Linked DNA regions of Homo sapiens. The protein of the gene in region 1 purifies or fractionates together with the protein of each later gene. This does not show direct contact. Each region holds a gene or a part of one and is shown on either strand. Other genes may lie near its edges. The genes, in order: GAK and INF2.

Region 1 (8,196 bases):
TGGTCAAAAAAACATAATTAGGAAGTGGGCAAAAGACATGAACAGACATTTCACCCCTGAAGATATGCAGATGGCAAAGAAGCACTCCCAAGCTATCGGGAAAATGCAAATCAAAACCACAAGGAGGTATCGCTACACATGTATCACAATGATCACAGTAAAAACCACGACGCCAAATGCTGGTGAGTACAAAGAGAAACTCGCTGTTAGGGACTCAACTGTGTGCCCCCAAAATGCATCTGCGGAAGCCCCAGATGACCCTATGCGGAGACGGGCCCTCAAGTAATGAAGGATAAATAAGTTCATACGAGTGGGGCCCTAATCCAATAGGACTGGTGTCCTTATAAGATGAAGACACACCAGAGATGTCAGCATCCCCTCAGCAAAAAGGCAGCATCGGCCGGGCGCGGTGGCTCAGGCCTGTGATCCCAGCACTTTCGGAGGCCGAGGCGGGCAGATCACTTGAGGTCGTGAGTTTGAGACCAACCTGGGAAACATGGTGAAACCCCGTCTCTACTAAAAATACAAAAATCAGCGGCGCATGGTGGTGGGCGCCTGTAGTCCCAGCTACTCAGGAAACTGAGGCAAGAGAACTGCTTGAACCCAGGAGGCAGAGGTTGCAGTGAGCTGAGATTGCGCCACTGCACTCCAGTCTGGGTGACAGAGCGAGACTCCATCTCAAAAAAAAAAAAAAAAAAAAGGCAGCATCTGCAAACCAGCAAAAGAGGCCTCTCCTGGAATCAGCACTGACAGCATCTTGCTCTTGGCCTTCAAGCCTCCAGAACTGCGAGAGTGAATTTCTACTGCTCCCCACTCAGTCTGGAGTATTTTGTTATGGCAGCCTAACCAGGCTGATACGCTCCTACATTGCTGGTGGGAATGTATGGCCACTCAAGAAAACAATCTGGCAGTTTTCTAACAAACTAAACACATAATTACCACACATGAACCAGCAACTGCACTCTTAAACATTTATCCCAGAAATGAAAACGTATATTCACACAAAAACCTATACGCAAGTGTCACAGCAGCTTTATCTGTAGTAGCCAAAACAGGAAACAGCCCAGATGTCCTTCCACGGGTGGCTGGCTGGGCAAGCCGTGCACACTCACGCAGAGGAGTCTCACCACGGGAAACAAGCTACTGACACACAATTACCTGAAGAATTCTGCACTTCCCCTTACACTGCATCCTTCGAATGACAAAATCACAGACAGAGCAAAGACTAGAGGTTTCCAGAGGGTAAGGAAATGGCGTGGCTGAGAGGTGGCATGAGGGCTCCCTACGGGGATGGAGACTTCCACAGCCTCACCTGCACCAGGGTTAGCATCCCGACCGTCACCACTGGGGAAACCAGGCAAGGGTCTAAAATAGAAAAGATCTCCATCTTTTCTCACAGCCGCGTGGGAACCTACAATGAACTCAAAATAATACAGTTTATTTAAAAATAATAGTAACGTATAAGACATTAAAGAATGGCATGTCGGGTACCTCCAAGACCCTGTTATATACATTTTACAGCACACACTCTGCCAATTAAGGAACAGGCACAGGCCAGGCACAGTGGCTGACACCTGCAATCCCAGCACTTTGGGAGGCCGAGGTGGGAGAATCACTTGAGCCCAGGAGTTCTGAGAACAGCCTACAGGCAACATAACAAGACTCCATCTCTACCAGAAATAAATTAAAAATTAGCCAGGCGTGGTGGTGCGTGCCTGTGGTCCCAGCTACCTGGGAGGCTGAGGTGGGAGGATCGCTTGAGTCCGGGAGTTCAAGACTGTGGTGAGCTGTGATCATGCCACTGCACTCCAGCCTGGGCAACAAAGCAAGACCTCATCTCAAGGGCAGGGAGTGGAGGGGTGGGGAGTGGAGGCACAGAGACATCAAATGCTCAAGCCAGGTCAAATCTCAAGGCCCAGGTTCCCTGAGGCAGCCTGGCCTGGGACAGCAGAGTGACCACAGCTAAGGCTTGCCTTCTCTTTCTCACATAAATTATATAAATATATAAACATAAGACCTGTATCCAGAGTAAGCAGAAACTCCCTGCCCAATAAAAAATGGACAAAAAGGCCAGGCGCCGTGGCTCATGCCTGTAATCCCAGCACTTTGGGAGGCCAAGGCCGGCGGGTGACCTGAGGTCAGGAGTTTGAGACCAGCCTGACCAACATAGTGACACCCCATTTCTACTAAAAAATACAAAATTAGCTGGGCATGGTGGTGCATGCCTTTAATCCCAGCTAGTTGGGAGGCTGAGGCAGGAGAATTGTTTGAACCTGGGAGGTGGAGCTTGCCGTGAGCCAAGATGGAGCCACTGCACTCCAGCCTGGGCAAGACTCCCTCTCAAAAAAAAAAAAAAAAAAAAATTGCTGAACATCATCATCAGGGAAATTCCAATGAAATCACAATGAGATCGACACCACTGCACACTCACAAGAATGGATGTAATCAAAATGAGAGACCACAAGAAATGCTGGTGAGGAAGTGGAGAGCCAGGAACTCTCCACTGCAGCTGGTGGAAATGTAAAATGGTGCAGCTACCGTGGAAGGAGGTTTGGTTGTTTCATGTGAAGTTCAACCTAAATCCAACCTGTAAATCAGCAATCCTACTCCTTGGTATTTTTTACCCAAGACAAAGAAAAACACACGTCCACAAAAAGACTTGAAAAAAAATGTTCTCGGCACCTTTATTCATAACAGCGGATACGGTTTGGATCTTTATTCATAACAGCGGACACGGTTTGGATCTTTATTCATAACAGCACATACGGTTTGGATCTGCGTCCCCATGCAAATCTCATGTTCACTTGTGACCCTCAATGTTGGAGGAGGGGCCTGGTGGGAGGTGACCGGATTATGGGGCGGAGTTCCCCATGGCGTGGCTGCTCTCAGGATAGTGAGATCTGACTGGGCCATGGGTGTGGAGTTCCTCCCGGGGCTGCTCTCAGGATAGTGAGTGCTCTCCTGTGAGATCTGATTGGGTCGTGGGGGTGGAGTTCCCCCGGGGGGCTGCTCTCAGGATAGTGAGTGCTCTCCTGTGAGATCTGATTGGGTTGTGGTGGTGGAGTTCCCCCAGGGGCTGCTCTCAGGATAGTGAGTGCTCTCCTGTGAGATCTGATTGGGTCATGGGGGTGGAGTTCTGCCCGGGGGCTGCTCTCAGGAGGAGGTTGCCAGGATCTGAGATCACACCCCTGTACTACAGCCTGGGCAACACAACAAGACTCTATCTCAAAAAAATAAGAATAAAAAAATAACAGGCACAGGATATGAATGTGCAATGCCAGAAGGGGAGGCTGAGCAGCAAATAAGCATTACCAAACTCGCTACTCAGAAAGGCACAAATCAAAGCTTGACACTTTTTAAACCCATCAAAATGTCCAAATAAAACAAACCCCCAGGGGACACTCTGAGGACTTGGGACACTAGAGTCTGGTGCCCCCGAGCAGCCTGCAGGCCCCATGAGCAGAGCTGGGCAACCTTCCCCCACACAGCCCACCAGCGTCCATGCAAAGGGCTGAGGACACCTCTCACCAGGATGCGTGTAGGATGCACGGAGCACGCTGGGGACGGGACAGAGTGCCGGGGGACAGTGAGGTCAGTACAGGACCACTACAGGCAGATCTGAGTATCTTTTTTAATCAACTCGGCCTCTTTTAAGAAACAGACACTTTTCTAACGTAAAATACCACATACCAACATTTTCAATACACACATAATTCACAACACTACAGAATGAATCTGTGTCCCCTCCAAAATTCCTGTGTGAAATCCTAATACCCAAGGTGATGGTGTTAGGAGGTGGGGCCTCCTTGGGGGTGACTAGGCCATGAAGGTGGAGCCCTCAGGACTGGGATTACTGCCCCAGAGAGCACTCCCTCACCCCTTCTGCCCTGTGAGGACACAGCGAGAAGGTGCTGGACCTCACCAGACACCAGATCTGCCGGCGCCTTGCGCCTGGACTTCCAGCCTGCAGAGCCGTGAGGAATAAACAAACGTCTGTGGTTTATAGGCCCCCAGTGTACGACGTTCTGTTACAGCAGCACAGACGGACTGGGACACGGGGATGCGCACCCACACAGACAACCATGAGCAATTCACCAGGAGTCCACGGAGTGGAGGAGGAGGAAAGGGGAGTGGCCCAGCCCAACTGTCACCTCCCCCAGTGGTGAGCCCACCCGGGGGTCGTCCCCAACAGTGACCTCCCCGAACGTCTAATTCACCCCAAGGGGGTCCTCCCCCGACAGTGACCTCCCCAAACGTCTAATTCACCCCAGGGGGTCCTCCCTGGACAGTGACCTCCCCGAACGTCTAATTCACCCCAGGGGGTCCTCCCTCGACAGTGACCTCCCCCAATGGTGAGCCCACCCATGGGGTCCTCCCCAAGAGTGACCTCCCTGTATGTTAACAGACAGAAACCACAGAAGTAACACAGGCTTGTTCCTGCCAAGGGTCAGCCGCAGCTGAGCATGAAGTGGTGTTGGCCTGTCACTCTCCGCCCCAACAGCCTCTACTACCTTATATGCTCAGACATCTCCTCCAGGGCACAATGCGCAGAGCAACGGGGGCCAGGACAGGGGCCCTAAGGACACCTCCCTGGGGCTCCCAGCCCCCACTCCACCACTCGACCTCTGGCAAGCAACTAATCTCTGCAAACGTCACTTTTCTCTTCTGCGAGATGGAAGTAATTATAGTACCCACTTTCCAGGGCTACTGTGAGGACCACACAATCCACATAAAGTACTACTGACCATGCTCGGCAAATACGAAGAGCCCCTAAGGGTTGCTGTGGTGGTTCTGACCATTTTTACTTCACGCTGGGAACTAGCCAAAGTGGACAAATGTTGATGATCAAGCTGTCAACTTGGAAGTGAAGGCGGTTGGTACCAGGAGAGCCGCCAGGGGGCAGCTACTCTGTGGCAGAATCTGGGCCTCACAGGCCTGATGACCTAGAACCAACTAACCAAGCCCCAGAGACCCTGCTTACCTGCGCTCCGCACTGCCCCGCACCCCTCCCAGCTCACCTGCGCTCCGCACTGCCCCGCAACCCCCCCCACCCCGCTCACCTGCGCTCCGCACTGCCCCGCACCCCTCCCGGCTCACCAGCGCTCCGCACTGCCCCGCACCCCTCCCCGCTCACCTGCGCTCCGCACTGCCCCGCACCCCTCCCGGCTCACCAGCGCTCCGCACTGCCCCGCACCCCTCCCCGCTCACCTGCGCTCCGCACTGCCCCGCACCCCTTCCCGCTCACCTGCAGTCCGCACTGCCCCGCACCCCTCCCCGCTCACCTGCAGTCCGCACTGCCCCACACCCCTCCCGGCTCACCTGCGCTCCGCACTGCCCCGCACCCCTCCCGGCTCACCTGCAGTCCGCACTGCCCCGCACCCCTCCCGGCTCACCTGCCCTCCGCACTGCCCCACACCCCTCCCGGCTCACCTGCGCTCCGCACTGCCCCGCACCCCTCCCCGCTCACCTGCAGTCCGCACTGCCCCGCACCCCTCCCGGCTCACCTGCAGTCCGCACTGCCCCGCACCCCTCCCCGCTCACCTGCAGTCCGCACTGCCCCGCACCCCTCCCGGCTCACCTGCAGTCCGCACTGCCCCGCACCCCTCCCCGCTCACCTGCAGTCCGCACTGCCCCGCACCCCTCCCGGCTCACCTGCAGTCCGCACCCCTCCCCGCTCACCTGCGGTCCGCACTGCCCCGCACCCCTCCCGGCTCACCTGCAGTCCGCACTGCCCCGCACCCCTCCCGGCTCACCTGCAGTCCGCACTGCCCCGCACCCCTCCCGGCTCACCTGCAGTCCGCACTGCCCCGCACCCCTCCCCGCTCACCTGTAGTCCGCACTGCCCCGCACCCCTCCCCGCTCACCTGCCCTCCGCACTGCCCCGCACCCCTCCCTGCTTACCTGCGCTCTGCACTGCCCCGCACCCCTCCCTGCTTACCTGCGCTCTGCACTGCCCCGCACCCCTCCCTGGGTGAGCGCAGGCCCCGCACCCCTCCCTGGGTGAGCGCAGCCACCGCACTTCAGGCTCTGGGTCCAGGAGAGGTACAAAGAAGCAAGGATGACAGAACCCTGGTGGCTAAGAGAACAGCACAGAGCTGCAGAGGCTGGTGCCCTCAGTCACATGGCCAAGAGAACAGCACGGAGCTTCAGAGGCTGGTGCCCTCAGTCACAAGTCCTATGTGGGAAGAGGGTCGGCTACAAGGCTGGCTCGCCACAGCAACCTAAGGGTCTACTTTTTTTTGAGATAGAGTCTCGCTCTGTCGTCCAGGCTGGAGTGCAGTGGTGCAATCTTAGCTCACTGCAGCCTCCACCTCCCAGGTTCAAGTGATTCTCCTGCCTCAGCCTCCTGAGCAGCTGGGATTACAGGCACGCGCCACCATGCCCAGCTAGTTTTTGTATTTTCAGTAGAGATGGGGTTTTGCCATGTTGGTCAGGCTGGTTTCGAACTCCTGACTTCGGGTGATCTGCCCACCTCGGCCTCCCAAAGTGCTGGGATTACAGGCGTGAGCCGTCGTGCCCGGCCCGGTCTACTTTTAAGATCAGTCTAAGGCTGGGCACATTATCTCATGCCTGTCGTCCCAGCACTCTGGGAGGCCTAGGCCAGGGGGATCACGTAGGCCCAGGAGTTCAAGGCTGCAGTGAGTCGTGATCGCTCCACTGCACTCAACATGGGCGACAGAGCCAGACTCTTTTCAATAAAAGAAAATGATCTCAAGTGTACCCTGCGGAGGACACATGGGGCCAGCATGCGGCCTCCCCTGCCACTGAGCCCACCTTGGAGACATGGGGCCTTCCTGCCACTGAGCCCACCTGGGAGGGTTTCTGAAACTTGCAACCAAGAGTCTTGCTTGTACCACATGATTCTGCAACTGTCAGTCAGTACCAAATATTCACAGTGCCCTCACCCAGTCCAGAACATTCTTTTTTCTTTTCTTTTTTTTTTGGTGAGACGGAGATTTACTCTTGTTGCCCAGGCTGGAGTGCAATGGCGTGATCTTGGCTCACCGCATCCTCCACCTCCCAGGTTCAAGCGATTCTCCTGCCTCAGCCTCCTGAGTAGCTGGGACTACAGGCATGTGTCACCACACCCGGCTAATTTTGTATTTTTAGTAGAGACGGGTTTCCCCGTGTTGCCCAGGCTGATCTCGAACTCCCGATCTCAGGTAATCCACCCGCCTCGGCCTCCCAAAGTGCTGGGATCACAGGCGTGAGCCACTGCGCCCGGCCCAGAACATTCTAAGTAAGTGAAGGGAGGAAGCCTCCAAAAGCCATGTCAAGGAGGAAGAAGGGTGGAGAGTCAGGACCACACACAAGTGGCCCTGGGGGTGGGAGTAGGCTGTGCCCTCCCCATTCCTTAGGCCAGAGCTTGACCCCCAAGGCTCCTGAGCGGGCCCAGCCACTCAGCTAACACTGCGCATGGCACACAAGGGCTGCGGGCTGGCTCAAATTACATACAACACCCAACCAAACGCACGAGGCGGGTTACGCTTAAACCATACGACGGCTGTGCGGCATCGTTTTCTTTTCTGCCTCAATTTATCTCACTAGCAGTAACCCCGAGTTCAAGTCAGCCACACAGGGAAGGTGGATTTCCCTGCAGTCAGGGCACCACAGGCTCCACTTCAGAAGCAACGGCACGCAGAACCCAAAACAAAGAACACACAGCATACACCTGCCCTGGGCATCTCTGACATGGTTGGTGCTCCTGATAATCTGCCTTTTAAAAAAGTGAAGACTAGCTAGGTGCAGCAGCACATGCCTGTAAGCCCAGCTACTCGGGAGGCCGAGGCAGGAAGATCCAGAGCCCAGTTCAAATCCATCCTGAGTAACAGCAAGACCTCGTCTCTTAAATTAAAAAAAAAAAAAGGAAGATGACAGAACAAATTTGAAGAAATTAGAAAGCTATCTGGTTCCACAGTTCTACCTAAAAACCCATTCACACCACAAGTCCAAATTCCTAAAAGCTATGAAAACCATTTTTTCCTAACTCACTTGACAGCAAATCCTGGTCTATCATAATAACCTCATTTGGGATAAAACCTGACATGAACTGATATGGGGTTAATTACAGACTTTAATTATCCCACAGTGAGAATATTTATTCATTTAATTACAGAAATATTAATGTATTCAATTACAGAATACTTTCCCAAGTCTTCTGGGAGTATCCCACGATATACAGGTTATATGCTGCAA
Region 2 (9,185 bases), on another chromosome or scaffold:
CTCAAAGGAGCACCTCCAGGGAGCCCATCTGGTGCTCCCTCCAGCTCCTCAAATTCCCAACACCAGGGTTGCAAGGCCCAGTGTCTTCTCACCTCGTTAGGTGGAGAACCCCTTCTTTAAGCAAAAGATGGCACGGACCCCCGACATAAGACAGTTCAAAGCTGAGCGGCTCTCCCCATCATGCAAGTAACCTGCGTGCCGCCACGGGAAACAGCACGCATCCCATCTGGACTCCCACCAGACAACTGAGGCAACCGAGAAGGAGGCTGGGGAGGGACAGCTCGAGGGCTCACTGGAGGTCAGCAGGGAGGTGGACTGCGTCTCCCGAGGGCCAGCACTGGCTTAGCCTGCTCAGTGAGGTGCCCGAAGGAGGCCCACCAGCTCTGCCAGCACCCGGCCTCTGCACCTCAGCTTTCAGCGGATAGGTTTGTGCAACGAAATATTTCATAGAAATCAAGAAACATGAGTGAACGATGCACACCACCGCGTGGATGAGTCTCAGAGACTGTGGAGCGAAAGAAGCCAGACACAAAGGTTGACATTTACACGCAATCCTAGAATGACGGCTCTATGGTGGCAGAGAGGAGAAAAGCAGTTAGCTTTGGCAGGTGCCCACGGAGGGGGCTATGCAATGGAACTTTCTGGGCCCTGGAGGTGTTGCAGAGTTTGCTATGGGTGGTGGTAGTTACGTGGGTTTCTATGAATGTAAAAACTCTTGGTGTGGTAGACCCAAGCTCTGGGCACCTCACGCATGCCATGCAGCAGCTCGATCTGTGACAGCGAGTCCTGTGTTCCATGATATGGCTGCAAACACTTGACAGAGTGAATGCCGAACCTCTGCTCCTAAGGGAAATAGAGGGCCAGGTTCCTACGAGCCTCTGCTCCAGCCTTTTCAGCAACCAATCAGTACACAATAGAGTTATTTATGTGTTTCTGTTAATATATGTCACTAAACTCCCGGCCAAGAGCACTACAACTCATGCCTGTACAGAGCCTGTCCAACACATGTATTTTCTCCATAGGACACATCATCTCAAAAGCAAGTATTGATCTTATTTTATCTCATTTTCAAGAGATGCAGACTGTTCTTAAGCAAGTACTGGTTTTAGGTTTACAAATACATTTTAGCGAGTAGGCAAATTTGCAAGTACAGAATCTGTAAATAATGAGATTCTACTGTATGTGTGTGCAATATTCAAATGAAGAGGACAGAGCTTCCTGCCTGACACAAGCCCCTGACTGACTGCCCCACCCACCGTCCCTTCTAAGAGCAGCAGCCTGGTCCCAGCTCTTGCCTTCCCTCCTCAGACCAGGGATAAGCCCTGACCAATGTCTACCTCCTGCAGCCAGACACAGACAGGCTGACTCAGGTGCTCTTGGAGTTTGAACTGAGAAATGCAAGAGAAGCTTGCAAAATGCTGAGAGGCTCCACAAGGGGCTGCTGAAGCCCCAGCAGGCAAAGCTGCCAGCTACAGAGCAAAAAGCCAAGGGAGGGGCAGGGATGTTGGAGGAAGGACCTGGCTGGAGGTGACTGGGGGCGGTCGTGTCCTTGTCAGCAAGCATAGAGCAGAACAGCTGCCCAAGGTGCCACAGCTGGAAGGGTGAGTGGGTGGATGGGTGGATGAAAGGGTGGGTGGGTGGGTGGATGGGTGGATGAATGGGTGGGTAGGTGGGGGGATGGGTGGATGAGTGGATGATGGCTGGGTAGGTGGATGGGTGGATGAGTAGGTGGATGGATGTGTTGGTGGATAGGTGGGTGGGTGGATGGATGAATGGATGGGCAGATGGATGGATAAGGGTGGGTGCATGGGTGGATGAATGGGTGAGTAGGTGGGTGGATGGGTGGATGAGTGGATGATGGGTGGGTAGGCCGATGGGTAAGTGGATGGTGGGTGGATGGATGGATGGGTGGGTGGATGGATGAATGAATGGGCAGATGAATGGATGAGGGTGGGTGGGTGAGTGGCAAATGGGTGGGTAAGTGGGGGGATGGGTGCATGAGTGGATGATGGGTGGGTAGGTGGATGGATGGATGGGTAGGTGGGTGGATAGGTGGGTGGGTAGGTGGGTGGGTGGATGGACAAATAGATGGGCAGATGGATGGATGAGGGTGGGTGGATCAGTCGGTGGGTAGGTGGTTAGATGGGTGGATGAGTGGATGATGGGTAGGTGGATGGGTAGATGGATGAAGGGATGGGCAGATGGATGGATGAGTAGATGATAGGTGGGTAGGTGGATGGGTGGATGGGTAGGTGGATGGATGTGTGAGTGGATAGGTGGGTGGGTGGATAGATGAATGGATGGGCAGATGGATGGATAAGGGTAGGTGGATGAATGGGTGGGTAGGTGGGTGGATGGGTGGATGAGTGGATTAAGGGTGAATAGGTGGATGGGTAGGTGTATGGATAAGTGGATGGACAGATGGGTGGGTGGATGGATGAATGGATAGGCAGATGGATGGATGAGGGTGGGTGGGTGAATGGGTGGGTAGGTGGGTGAACAGACGGATGAAGTGTGGGTGTGTGTGGGAATGGATGGATGAATGGGTGAATGGGTACATAGGTGGGCAAGGTGGGTGGACATGGGTGAGCAGGCATGTTTTCACTTACTTCATTCTGTAACAATGTCAGAGATCATCTCAGGGCACCACAGTAGGATGCAAAATAAAATCTCAAAAGGGGAAAAAAGATAAAAAGCATTCTGGGTGCTGAACTGATGAAGGAAATGAACCCATGGCCAGGCTGCTGCTCAGGTGGACCCCAGGAAGCCCTTCTGGGCCTGCAAGTGGCCGCCTGCTGCATGCAGGGCTGTCCTGACTGCACGGCGGCGCCAACATCAGGCTGGGAGGATTTCTCTCAGAACGCCCACACCTGCCTGCCTGTTTCTAGCAGAACTCAAGCTGTCGGTGCCAAGGCCTGCTCTCCCCTCATCCCAATCTTCCAGCAAGAGGCAGAGGCAAGCTCTCCACAGGCCTACAGTGGCAGGGCCACTCTTGCACTCTGTGCCAGTGGCCAGGAACATGTGGCTCCGCCTGGGTGTGTCACAGTACCAGCCTGTACCTGCACGACCCTGTTCTCAGGCATCTGGGTACCTGCAGCTGGGGGCCGGCACTTGTGTACCCGGCTCCGAGGAAGGACCGACACCCAGGAGGGGAGGCTCCAGGCAGGCCATGGCTTCCAGGAAGCAGCTCCGGAAGCCGCAGGCAGTGGCTGCAGGTGGTGTGTTTCTGAGGCCAAATCGGTCCTCTCTTCAACCCCAGGGCCAGGAAGCAAGCTCAGAATAGGGCCAGGATGGAGTCTGGGAGCGCTGGAGGTACAGAGGGTTGAGGGTGAGCCACTGAAGGAGAAGAGGAGGGGGCCTCTGTATGTCTCAGAAAATCAGTGCTCAAGCCGGGTTGAACCCTGCTGCCCCGGGCATGGTGGGTTCAAGCCTGACGGAAAACCCCCTTTCAGTGTCCACATTTCCACCCTCCCAGACCTCTGACCTCGGCCTCCACTCCACACACACACACACACATACACACACACACACACAGACACACACTCTTAATCAGGGCCCAAAGCCCTCCTCTGCACTCCCTGCCGACCCCAGGGACTTCTCCAACCTCTCTCCAACTAAATCACATTCACCCCACCTTCTTCACCCTGCTCCGGCCTGTGCTGGCCTCTCTGGACCAGGTGTGCAGCTCGGAAGCACGACTGGGTGCAAGGGAGACAGCCCCAGGCAGGAGCGGCCCTGGGGGCGCTGGGCCTCCCTCCCCCATCAGGGCAGGAAAGGTGGACCCCTCGCCCACACCTGACCTCCTACTCCAGCCTCTGAGTAAGGCTCAGGACTCTGACTTTCCCCCAGGCAGGTGGACAGGGGAGGGGGCTGCAGGTCAAAGCTCACTCCCCACCAACCTCCTCACATTCCTCCATTCACTGGATCAACAAACACACCCACTGCCCAGCACCGCTGCCAGGCATCAGCTCCCAACGCAGATGAGTCAGCCCCGCCCGTGCCCTCCAGGGTGGGGTGGTACCAGGGCAGGCACCAATGTTCGGGTCCAGGAGTGCACCAGGAGACCCAAAGCCCAGCTTGAGGGAGGGCAGGAAGGCCTTCTGCTCTGGAAGGGGCCCTGGAGCCCGGTGTGGAGGGCCGGAGGCCGGCCTTCCAGGTGCATTCCAAGAATTGCAGAGTGCCTGTCTAGGAGCAGCGGCCGCCCAGGTTGGAGGGTGTCCAGTGAGCGCCTGCCTTGGCTGGCTCCTCAGGCACACCCGGGGCTGTGGCCTGCAGCTGCTCCTGCACTGGGGCTGAGCCAGCAAACTTCCGGGGCTGGGGCTGCTGGGCAGGGCAAGGTCCGCACAGGGAGCAGACAGACGCAGCCTGCAATTCGGCGCTTATCCCCACCGGAGCGGAGGCACACCAAAGCCAAAGGACACGCAGCTGGCCTCAAAGCAGAAGCTGCATCGGGGCTGGGAAGCCATTCAGGAGCCCTTTTCTCTCCCCTCGCCCTCACCCTGAGCCCTGGCCGCCACGGCCCACACAGCAGGCCCTCCGGAGAGAGATGTCAGGACTCCGAGTGGAGACACTTTATCCGCATGTTCTTGACCCTCATACAGCCCTTACGGGTACTTATTCTATTTTACAGATGGGGAAACTGAGGCTCCACAGAGTCATATCCGAGCCTGAGGCCGCACAGGGAGTGCTGGCGCCGGTTCTCAGGGCAGGGGTTGTGTCTGCTCTGTCACATGTCACACGGGGGCTCCCCCAGGCCTGCCTTCCTCTGCCCTCCCTCTAGCTGCCAGTGGCCCCCAAACCCCAGGCCTGGTGCGCTGCTTCCTGCAGCTCTGACTGAGGGTCAGACGTCAGAAGGGACTTCCAGAGCTGGGGTCTGGCTCTCATCCAACCAGGCTGGCTTTCAGAGCCGACTATGGGCACGCCCCATGCTGGTCAATGTCGGCGGTGGGGGGATGGGTGCCCCCCTCAATCTAGGAGACAGATGAGGCCGGACAGCAGAGGGGTGGCAGAGAAAACCCACCCCATTGCGACACCTCCGCGGCCCTCATGCAGCTGTCTCCACCAACCGGCGAAGTGCGGCTGCCCAAGACCGCCGAGACCCCATCAAGGGTGGAAGGGGGTCAGGCAGGGCTGCGGAGAGGAGGCCACATGGGTGGCCTGGTTGATGGGTAGGCTCTCTCTCCCCAAAGCCTGGGAAGAGCCATCTCTGCTGAGGGATCCCCGAACGCGGGGACTCCGGATCCGGCTGGCTGGAACGGGAGTCCCGGGCCGGGGCAGAGAGAGGTGAGCGGCGCCTGGGAGGCCAGTCCCACCGGAGGATAGGGGTGTAGGTGGACGGGAGGCGGTGGAGGGCAGGGACGGGGCGGACAGTGGGGGCTGAGGCGGGAGACGGCCCCGATCTGCGCGTCCCACCCCCATCTCCGCCCACCAGGAGCCAGGCCAGCAGGGACCGCGAGGGGGCGGCCAGGTTATTCACGGGAGTGGGGAGACCCCTTAAAGCGCCCTCAGGGACCGGCCACAGTGGGCGGGGCCACCCCCAGCCACCCACCTCCCCCCCCAGGCCCCGCCCCCGGCCCGCGCTCGCTCCCCACGTGGCCGCTGACGGGCGGGGCGGCACCTCCTCTTCCTCCCGCCCGCCCCGCCCGCCCCGCGCCCGCCAGGAGCCACCGTCCGAGCCTTGCGGAGCGCGGCAGTGGGCGCCGGCTGCCCGCAGCCCCTGACCCGGCCCCGGACGGAGCGCCGGCCGCACCACCGCCCTCTGGCCGTTGCCTCACCGGGTAAGTCCTTGGCCTCGGGGTCCGCTTGGAGCTTCAGGGGAAACTGAGTCCGGGAGGAGGCAGGGGCGTGCTTGGGTCCAGGAGCGAGGTTCCGGGCTGCGGCGTGTGTGCCCAGGTGGCGGCGGGCGGTCCGGCGGCGCAGGGTACAGTTCCCGGGCGGGGACCCCAGGGCGCCCCTGGCCCCCCCGGCTCCGCGCGCCCCGCTCGGGACTATGGTCCTCCGCGCCGAGGCACCGCCCGAGCGCGCACTGGCCGCAGAGTGGTGGGCCCAGGGTCGGCCGGGCCTACTCCCAGGGCAGGCGGGATTTCCGCGCCTCGCGGCTGCCACATCCTGACCATGAATCAGCCACAGTTGGGAAAATAAACTTCAACTTCGGGTCCGCCGCCCGGGTGGCACCCCGAGGTGCGCGCCGGCCTGCGGCCCCACCCTGACTGCTTGGCTTCCAGCTGCCCACGCGCAGGTGGGCGCACAGGGAGCCCTTCCCACCCCGCAACCGCTGGCAGGCTTAGGGGAATCAGCCTCCATCACAGCTCTCTGTTCCTTTTGGGTGGGGTAGGATCCAATCCCTGTACGCCCCCAGACCCACCCGTCAACCCTCTAACTGGGGAGTCGCCCCAGGAGTGACCATGACTAAGGAGGGGAAGGCGGGGTGACCAGCTGTGTCCCTGACCGTCCCCAATGCCCCCTGGGGAGCACAGGCGTGGGGGGTGGTCTGTCTGTCTGGGCCTTCTGGGGCTCAAGCTCCCCACCCAGGGCTCCCGCAGCTCAGCTGTGACCACAGCATTACTGCCCACTCCAGCTGGACACACCAGGAGGCAGAGAGGCAGAGACCCTGCCCAGGCAGGGAACCAGGAACCCAGGAACCGGGCCAGAGGTCAGGCACACCCAGAAGGCGCTGGACGTAGGAAATTCCCTTACTGCCAGCCCTGCCCCTCCGTCTGGCACTGGAATGGAGCAGGATACTCGCCCTCTTCCGGCCTCAGTTTCCACATCTGCACTCTGAAGGGTGGGACAGCAGCTCAGGCTGGGACCTGCTCCCTGCCGCCCTGCACTGGGAAGGTGGGGTCCCAGAGCAGTGCCTCAGACCCCGAGGGTGCCACCCAGCCAGGGGCTTTTGGGGTGTCGGTGCTCAGCCCCCAGTGCAGCAAATAGTAGCATTGGGTTCCAGGCCTGGGGTCTGAGACCTCACACTGCTCCCACCCCTACCAGGGCAGCAGCAATTTTCTGTTCTAAAAGCCAGGTTGGTGCAGTGGGCCCTGCCCAGGCCCTGCCCTCCCATCCCTGGACTGTCATGGGCCCTGCAGCCCGGCAAAGGGGATGTCGCTAGTGGGGACGGACCAAGTGGCCAGGTGCGACTGTAGCCTCCACAGCCAGGGCTCCTGAGTTAACCTTCAGGTGAGCGCCCACTTTGTGGAGGAGCTGACGGCTGTCAAGCGAATGACACACACCGCACATGTGGGGACGTGGAAGCTCCTACCTGAAATAGACTCTGCGCCTTCCATCAAAGTGCAGTTACTTCCTGGGTTGGAAAAGTTATGCGGTTCATGCAGGCTGCGGGAGGGGTGGGTGGTGACTGGAAAGTGATGCGGTGCTGCCTGTGGGTGTGGGGCAGGACGCAGCTGGCCCAGCTCTGGACGGGGACAGTGAAGTAAGCTCAAGCCCCTGGCTTTTTGCTGGTGCCTGGAGGTCAAATTTCCCTGTAGTCAGGAATGAGACCTGACTCCCTGCTGCCAGCCCCTCCCCTACCTCCATCTTGCAAACAGCAGGTGTCTGATAGGTGTGTGGTTCATGGCCCAGTGGACACATTACATTGGAGAAGGCACACCCACCTCTGTTTTCAGGATGGTGGACGGGAAGGCCGGGAGGTGGAGGCCACATAGGAGCCAGTCTCTGGAGGGTGGTCCCCAGGGGCCACAGCAGACCCAGGCCTAGTGGACACCTAAAGTCAAAGACTAAGTTCTACCAACGGTGGGAAGGAGAGAGGGCAGGGGCACGGGCTCCCCGTCGCTGGAGGGGTGAGCAGGGTCCAACCACCTGGCCCCCTGTTAGAGAGGCTTCCACTCCTGCCAGCCTCACCCTAGGAGGGAGAGTCCTGCCTGGTCTGCCTCTGAGCACCCAGACAGCCTGGGTCCTGAGCTGGGGTGAGGTCTGCTCACACAGCTGCCCCCCAGCCCAGTGCCGGTATACCCTGGCAACCACCAGGCCAGGAGAGCAGGGCAGACCGGTGGTGCCTGTCCTCTCCTGAGGGGCCGTCCTCTCTCACAGCCCTTTCTAAGCTGTAATTAAATAAGGAACCACAGGGGTTGCTTAGGGTCGCCCCTCTGAGGGCTCATGTCAGTCCCCGAGGGCCAGCCTCAGGCCGGGTCTGTCCACTCACCATTCACGCCAGCCTGGGCAGGGTCTGTGTGCTGGGTGAGTGGGTGAGGAGGAAAGGAATGAGCCAGCCTGCGGGGTCCCTCCGCACGGTCTCCCACCCTCATCCCTCCCAGTGCGACGTGGGTCCTGCAGGAGCGTTCATTTCACAGGTGAGGCGCGGGACAGTCGGTGCCATTTTACACTCAGTGCCATCCATTCTGCCAGGAGGTGCTGATAAAGCCCCTACTGTGTGCATCTGCCCTTGTGCCCAGAGCCTGGAGCCCAGCCCCGCTCAGCACGGTGCCAGGCAGGTGCAGGGCACTTACTGGGGGTCAGGGTGCAAATGGGCTGGCCCCACAGAGTAGCTGGAGGCCGAGGCCCCCCAGCCCTTGTTGCTACCACTGGGGTAGGCTCAGGGTGCTGGCACTGCCACTCTGGGAATAGGACAGGCCTGTCCTGGTCAAGTAGCCATTACCGGGCCTCCAAACTCGGGGGTTGGTGGGGCAGGAATAGGCCCGCCCTCCAGGCAACCACCTGTGTCACTCCAGAGCAGCCCATGCAGACAGACAACTGCCCAAGGGCCAGCCTGGACCCCGGAGCCCTCCCAGCCAGTCGGCCTGGGTCACAGCCTGGGTGGAATGACCAGTGTGGTCACAGCCCAGATGGGATGACTAGCGTGAAGGCCCTGAGGACCTTGCCACGCCAATGGCCAAGGGCAAGGGCCAAGGCTGCTTTCCTCTTTCGCCTGCAGCTTTTCCCAGAGGCAGCAGGGAGGGAGAGAGAGGTACCAGGAGAGTCCTGAGAGAAGGGCCAGCCTGGGCTGCCCCGAGCCTCTGTGCCCTCAGTTCACTCCTGTTCTCACCCCAGAAGGGTGACTGGCCGTGGCTGGGGCACCCTCCATCTCCCTCAGCCCCAACCTCTGTCTGTTGGAAATGGCATGGAGACCCAGAAGGAGCAGATGGGCACCACTGGAGGCCTGGCCAGGCTCCTGGCCGCCGATCAAGGCCTTTGCAGGGTCAGAGGGACATGGGAAGATGCTGCCAAGGCCCCTG

The links.
Region 2: the proteins of GAK (region 1) and INF2 purify together in Homo sapiens (affinity purification with mass spectrometry; 2 studies listed by BioGRID and IntAct, with this or other methods). This does not show direct contact.

The regions. Positions count from the first base shown.
Region 1 is NC_000004.12:921,835-930,030, forward strand, and holds part of GAK (cyclin-G-associated kinase), read right to left. Parts: intron 1-8,196. UniProt on the Homo sapiens protein: Associates with cyclin G and CDK5. Seems to act as an auxilin homolog that is involved in the uncoating of clathrin-coated vesicles by Hsc70 in non-neuronal cells. Expression oscillates slightly during the cell cycle, peaking at G1.
Region 2 is NC_000014.9:104,683,963-104,693,147, forward strand, and holds the start of INF2 (inverted formin-2), read left to right. Parts: upstream 1-5,655; 5' UTR 5,656-5,777; intron 5,778-9,185.